Linked DNA regions of Homo sapiens. The protein of the gene in region 1 interacts with the protein of each later gene in a pairwise test. Each region holds a gene or a part of one and is shown in the gene's direction. Other genes may lie near its edges.

The links. Proteins that work in one complex are often made in the same cells at the same time.
Region 2: the proteins of KLHL32 (region 1) and PARVG interact in a two-hybrid assay, tested with the Homo sapiens proteins (one large-scale study listed by BioGRID).

Annotation. Positions count from the first base shown.
Region 1 is NC_000006.12:96,923,131-96,926,881, forward strand, and holds the start of KLHL32 (kelch-like protein 32), read left to right. Parts: upstream 1-1,597; 5' UTR 1,598-1,896; intron 1,897-2,284; exon of another isoform or gene 2,285-2,331; intron 2,332-3,751.
Region 2 is NC_000022.11:44,187,301-44,190,951, forward strand, and holds part of PARVG (gamma-parvin), read left to right. Parts: intron 1-475; coding exon 476-578; intron 579-1,813; coding exon 1,814-1,954; intron 1,955-3,250; coding exon 3,251-3,366; intron 3,367-3,651. UniProt on the Homo sapiens protein: Plays a role with ILK in promoting the cell adhesion and spreading of leukocytes.

The DNA of each region.
Region 1 (3,751 bases):
GCAATTATAGTCTTTGCTCTATTTAATTATACTAAATAAATAGCTGCTATTTATTCTAAACAGATAATCCAATCAATATAGATGGGCTTAAAATTTTAAGTATTCTCACTTTAGTGACAAACACCTTGGGGATCTTAAAGGACTGTTTTATTTATTGATACCAGTCACTGTCAATATTTTTGGTTCAAAGACGCTTTCATATTCGATTTTCTGATAGAAGACAACGCAATGAAAACTATCAAGTTGCTTATGAAAAATTCTTAGGATGACACTGCACCTAATGTTTGTAGTCAGTTGTTTGTCATTCTTTCCCTTGTCCTATGCTGTGTCCAGGACTGCTAGATAAGTAGGTACCCAGCATCCTAGCGTCCAGATATCAAAACCATGAAAATGAAGCACTACAAGCCAGACAGATAACCTCCAGAGGGAGCAAACGAATAAACCCCCAAATCCTGTGGATCTAGAAGTAGAAAATAATCGCTGAACCACTGATTTGAGACCAATGAGAACATTAAGGACACCTCAAAATAGATCAGGGCACTGTTCCTAGCCCAACTCTGTGGCAGAACATAAACCTGCAAGAAATAGGATTAACATACTATCTTTGCAGTAAGTTAAATCCTGAACTTCTACAAAATACAGTTTACTCCAATTTAGTTACACTCTTCCTGCTTCTGGTGTCTTACCTCCACGTTGGACTAAGGTTTTCAATTCGGTGGTGGAATACTTACCTATTAAAATTACCCACTTTGCTTTAGTGTGAGTTTCTCAGCATGTTTTACACAGGAGTGACCTGAATGACTCGGAAGTGGCACTTGAGTGTGCCAGGCCCTGGAATTTAATGGTATGGTTCTGTGGTTGTTGTCTGTTTGCGGTTTTATTGCTGAATTAGTAGTAACCACAGTAATCACACCCTTTCTCATTTCTCAGGCTTGGGGATTTCGTCCACCTCTGGCGGGTTGGTTCCCCTGACGTTTCTTAAAGTTACTGTGAATTTGTTCTGGTCAGTACCATAGAGTGTATTATCCTAAGGAGGGCCACTGTAGGGCCGCTAGGACTAGAGGCAACTTGAACTTCACAAGTTAGCAGAGCAAGGACTCCCTGGAACACCGAGTTAGGGCCACGGGGTCTGTTTGCTCAGATTGCCCGCCAGCCCTGGGAAAGGAGTCTGGGGGCGAGCAGGCTGGGTTCCCGGGTCTCAGTCGCCGCAGTGGTGGCTACAGACTGCGCATGTGACCCAGGGGCCGGCGACGCAGGTGCCGGAGAGCGAGGAGGAGGGCGGCGTGGAGGAGGGTACTTCCGGGACCGGCGGGCGCGCGCTGGCAGCTCGCCGACGGCGGGGGCGGGGGCGGGGGGCGGCAGGGGAGCGAGCGCGCTGGCGGCGGGCGGTGGCGTTGCGCGCGGGGTGGCGAAAGGATGTGCGCGGGATCGCGGGGGAGGGGGAGGGAGCGCGCGGGCTAGCTGGAGGCGGGAGGGGGCGGAGCCCTGTGGCGTCTGAACCCGCCCCGGGGGTGCCAAGGTGCGTCTCCAGTCTGACGCGACCGCCTGGGGCGGAGTCAGCGGGACGTGCCACCTGCAGTGCTGGCTAGGGCTTTTTATTTACTAGGGAGCAGTTTCCCCGCGCGACAGTTCGGGAGCGCGCAGGCAGTCGCGCGCACACACGCACGCAGGCACACACACACACACACACACACACACACACACACTTTCGCACACACAAACACGCTAGGACGCTCGTCTTCGCTACTGCATCCCCGAACCAGCAGAGCGAAGCTACTGCGGGTTCTGTTAACCTCAGCATCGTGGGGCGAAGCAGAGCCATTGTGCATCAAGGAGAGGCCGGTGCCTGCGCTGCCGTCTCTGGCACCTAACCCAGCAGACCGCTCACCCCATCGGGTAAGCCAGTCTCTCTCCTTGTAACCTGTTCTGCAGACCTGAGGAAGAGGGTGGGAGGCTGCTGGTGCGCCAAGTGGGGGCAGACCCGGAGTTGACATTTCAGGGGCTTGCAGCCCATGCAGCCTCTGCCCGTGTCGTCTAACGGGAGCAGCCACTACTCAGGTTACTTATGCTGCCAGCCCTGGAGTCGCTCCCCCTTTCTTCCCTCCCCCTGAGCCCAATATGTACTGTGCTCCTTGGTTGCCAAGGAGACTTGCTTAAACATCAGCCGTGGGACATCTATTGAAAGAACTGGTTTCTTAAATGATGCCGTTATTTATTTTGATATTTAAAATAAAATATACACTGAGGACCTTTCGTAATTTGGCATTTGTTAATCTGTATTCAGGTGGCGGTTTCATTCAACTTCAAGAAAAGCCGTAATTGCACTATATGGTATGCTTTAAAAAGGATTCGTCAGATGAATTTTTCAACGGATTGTGTCTTGAATCATAATTTACTCCCATTTTGGTGATCTTATAAAGAAAGATGACTGCAGTTTAGATCCCTTCTTCCCCTCTATTTCCAGTTTTATTTTGCAGTTCACTTAGTCGTGATTATTTTAAATTAAAAGCAGATGATTTAATTGTGTTTCCCCACACAAGAATGAGCTTCTATTGTAAATTGACCAGAACAGGAATACGTTTGTGAATTCGTAACGTAAGAAGGTAGCATTCATGACATACATCTTTGCTAGCATTTTTATATCCCCTGCATCAGTATTGAAGCGCAGTTTTTTGCACCTCTGCTCATTTCTGAGAAGATTCTGTTTTTTAAAAAATCTCTTATTGATTATTTTTAGATCTATCTCTATACACAGATAGAGATAGATATAAAATGTGTGCCATGGCTTACTAGAGCTTATATGAAAGTGCAGTGGTTTTTGCTTTTTGTTTTTTTTCTGATGGGACTGGGTCCTCTACTGGAACACTGATAGGCCAATGGAACAGGTCAGCCTAATACCTGGGCTGTCAGTTTTGTTTTATTTTGAGGTCTCGGGTGTCTATTGGGTGAACTTGTAACACAGTACTTGAAGGCATCAGCAATCCAGTAATTACACTTTGCACGAATTTCATGCCTCCATCACAAACAAATGGCCCAGTAAAGATCCACTGGCATTCAAGAATTAATTTTGTTTTCCTTGGATATTTGTTCATCTTTTCTACTTCTTGTTAAATGACCCAAGGAAATAAGTCAAATTCTTCTAATTTAGATTTTAAACTCTGTCATAGAGAGTGTAATAAATAATGTGAGGAGCAAGTAAGCCAAATAATGACAGAGGTAGATAGAGGGGATTTATGCAATTCACAGAGCTTTGGGAGATGAATGATGACAAACATTTTACATTACAGTGTAGAAAGCACTTTTCATATACTTCTTTTTTAATCCTCACAACAACCCTTTGAGGCCAATAAATTACCTTCCATTTAAAGCTGAGGAACCCAAGACTCAAACCTTGCTGAAGGTCACAGCTAGTGAATGGGGAAGCCCTTTCTGGATCCAGTCTCCTTGCCTTTAAAAAAAAGTTGTGTGTGCGTTTCAGATGTGTGCAGGGATCTGACAAGTGAGATAAAGGAGTGGAGCAGGCCTAGACAAGACACGTGGGAGAGAGGGTAGGGAGTGGAGTGTGAACTGTGGCCTCTGGAACTTGCAAACCACTGTAAAGGAGGCAGCTCCCACTCCACTGTAGCCGATTGTTACTGTCCAGGCTCTAAAACATGACAGTTTTTTAAGGAAAACAGAAGCTTCTGGATTTTTTTTATGAGGTATCCTTAATTTTAAAAACTGTAAGGACCACATTAAAAATTGTATCTGG
Region 2 (3,651 bases), on another chromosome or scaffold:
ACTGCAGTCCCCACCTCCATCTTCACGTCCAATGTCATGTCCCTCATTTCCTCCTAGGACCTCAGAAGGGGCACCTTTAACATCCATATTTCTACTGACCACCTCTTCAGGGCAATCTAGGCTTTTTCTATCAAGTGCTCATTGTCCAATTCTTTCCATTCCCCAAGCCATTTCCCCATTTTTGGGTATTTGCTATGGTAGTACCCCACTTCCTGGTACTAAAACCTCACACATGATAATGACAGCCCCACACTGCTCAGGTTTGTGATGGAGAGAAGCAGGGAGTCTGCAGGAACCTGGGGCAGGCCCCTAACAGCCTGGGAGATCAAGGAGGGCTTCCCAGTGGAGGTGACATTTGACCAGGCCTTGAAAGATGGGTAGGAGTTGGCAGGCGAGAGGCAGGCATTCTGAGCCAGGTGGAGGGCCAGGTGAGAAGTCTCCATCCCCCCAAAAGTTGTCCCCTTGGAGCCTGCAGGTGTTGATGGAGTGGATCAATGCCACTCTTCTCCCCGAGCACATTGTGGTCCGCAGCCTGGAGGAGGACATGTTCGACGGGCTCATCCTACACCACCTATTCCGTAAGTGGCTGTTTCTGGGGCTGCCTGGGCCTCGGCCCCATCCCCCTGACCTGGCCCCTCCAGGGCCCACAGGTAGGCTCTCTCCTTCAGTCCCCACAATGGTCCCGGGTTTAGGGACACCTGTCTCACTTTCTAGATGGGCCTGGGCTGGGGAGATGGAGGCGCTGTCCACAGCCCATGAGTGAGGGGGCCGAGCTGGGGCTCAGGGTGGGGCTCTGACGCCAGGGTTGGTGCTCTTTCTACCACACCACACTGCCTCTCTAACACTTATTGAGTGCCTGCTGTTTTGAGGTGCTGGGAGGTAACAAAAGAACCCATGATCCCTGCCCTCGGGCTGCCCTAGGCTGCTAGAGAGAAAACGGGCAGTCCTGGGTGGCTGGGGGCAGGGCTGGGCTCCTGTCTCCGTGTTCCTCCTCAGTCTGGAAAGCTCCAAGGGGCTTTGCAGGGGATGTGCATTCTCAGGGCCTCCTCCTGGTCCCGGGCAAGTGTTCCCCACAAGCCCCAGAGTCACCCTCTCCTTTGTCCTTGTATGGTCATGTCTGGTCTACGCATCTCTTCTGCACACAACTGTGGTCTCGGAGGCCACAGATAGGCCCAATTCCATGTCCTCAGCACTTCGCCTGAGGCCAGCCTCTGCAGTGTTCGCCGAGCTCTTTGGAGATGGGCTGCACAATCCCACTCATGCGGCTAGCACTTCCGGGCATGTCCCATGTAGCAGGTGCAGTTCATCCTCAGAATAGCCCTGTGCTGTTACTGTCCCCATTTCACAGATGAGGAAAGGGAGCCTCTGAGAGGCCTCATAATTTCTCCAAGGTCTTATGGTTAGGGAAGCAGGGGGGTCAGGATAGAAGCCTAGGAGTGTAGGCTTTAACCACTAGGCCACACTGCCCTGCAGAGATGAAGTGGACACAGCTGTGCAGAAGGGCAGGGGCTGCAGGCACAGGCTGATCAAGGTGAGGTGGGCTCTCTCAACCAGCTCAGGGGGCTGAGGCTTGCTCACATCATGTGGCCTGCATGGCCCACCAATCCTGTTCTGTGTAGATGAGGGTCTCCTGGAAGCTGGAGGGCATACCCGATTGAGGCTGTGAGTGTGGCCCACGGTCCAACACCAAGAATGGGCTCTCCAGACCCATGTTCCCTGAAGCACCAGGCAGGCTCAGCCTCCTGGAGGGTCCCTGAGGTGCTCTCTGGTCTGTCCCCGGCCAGGGGTCCTCACCACCCTCTCCTGCCTCCAGAGAGGCTGGCGGCGCTCAAGCTGGAAGCAGAGGACATCGCCCTGACAGCCACAAGCCAGAAGCACAAGCTCACAGTGGTGCTGGAGGCCGTGAACCGGAGTCTGCAGCTGGAGGAGTGGCAGGCCAAGTGGAGCGTGGAGAGTACGTGGGCCACAACCTGGCTACCCCTGGGGAGTGTGGGGCCGCTGGGGTCCTTCTGCTTCAGGCTTCTCACCCACCAGGAAGGCGCACTCATCCTTCTCCCAGCAGGGGTACAACCTGGGAGTCAGGAAGGAGGTAGAAGCCTCAGGCAGCCACAGTCAGGCATCTGGCTGAGCAGCCAACAGCCCAGCACACATCTGTGCCCTAGAGGGTGTTACTGCTGCAAAGTGCAGCCCAAGGATAGCAAACAGTCTCTGTTTGCTATCTGAATGACAGCCACTGTTGAGTTCCAAGTACCGTGGTCCGCCCATCCACACTCTCATTTCATTAAAGTATTGGAATATCTGCAGGGCCTGCTTATACAAAAAATGAGTGTGCCTGGTCGGGTGTGGTGTCTCACACCTGTAATCCCAGCACTTTGGGAGGCCGAGGCGGGTGGATCACCTGAGGTCAGGAGTTTGAGACCAGCCTGGTCAACATGGTGAAACCCCATCTCTACTAAAAATACAAAAATTAGCTGGGCGTGGTGGCCGGTGCCTGTAATCCCAGCTACTCAGGAGGCTGAGGCAGGAGAATCGCTTGAACCTGGGAGGCAGAGGTTGCAGTGAGCCCAGATTGCACCACTTCACTCCAGTCTGGGCTACAAGAGTGAGACTCCTTATCAAAGAAACACAAAAACCAAGAGAGCGTGCCAAACACCTAGACTTCCCCACCCCACCTGGTTCACAGTTTGGTATAGATTTCCTTCCCTTCAATTCTCCATATCCCCCCACCCCACCCAGATGAGAAAACTGAGGCTGAAAGAAATTATGCAGCTTCTCCAAGGTTGGGCGGTGAGGATTTAACAGAGTCCGTTTTCAAACCCAGGTTTTGTTGGGTCCCATGCGCCTGCATTCGCAGCCTGTAAGGTCTCACAATCAGTAATTGATGTTGATGAAATCAACCCTGAATTAAGTCACATGCAGCTGAAATCTAATGATCGTTCAGCCAGTGCCTTCCCAGAGGTCACTTGGTTGTTTCCGATTGTAAACAGTGCTGCAGTAAACATCTTTGTGTCTAGAGCCCCTTCCACAAGGTAGATCATACCCCTGGGCTATATTCTAAGAAGTGAGATGATGGGGTGAAGTGTGATGATTTTTAGGTTCTGAACACGTATCTCCAGATCTCTGCTCTCCAGAAGGCTGGACACAGACCTCCTTGGTCTGCAGATGGTTGTTCTGACAGTGAGGAAGCCTCCATTTGGCTGCACGTTTTGGCGGCCTCCTGGGCTCTGACCTGTCTCCACTCTCTTCCCAGGCATCTTCAACAAGGACCTGTTGTCTACCCTGCACCTCCTTGTGGCCCTGGCCAAGCGCTTCCAGCCCGACCTCTCCCTCCCAACCAACGTCCAGGTGGAGGTCATCACTATCGAGGTAGCAGCCTGGGCCCCAGGGATTTGTAAGCAGAAGCTGAGCCTCTTGGGCCCCCATTGCCGTACCCTGCATGGGTGGAGCTGGCTGGGGCGGGGCTGACCCAGGGTGAGTTTCAGGGAACCCTGAGAAATAGAATCCAGCCAGGATGGCCAGGGGGTGCTGTCTGGAGCTGGGGACGGGCTGGTAAGGGTCTAGTGGGGCTGGCGGAGGCCTGGGGGCATGAGGAGGTCCACGGCTGGCCAGCTCCACTTGACCTCAGCAGAGGGCATCTGGCTGGCAGAGGCT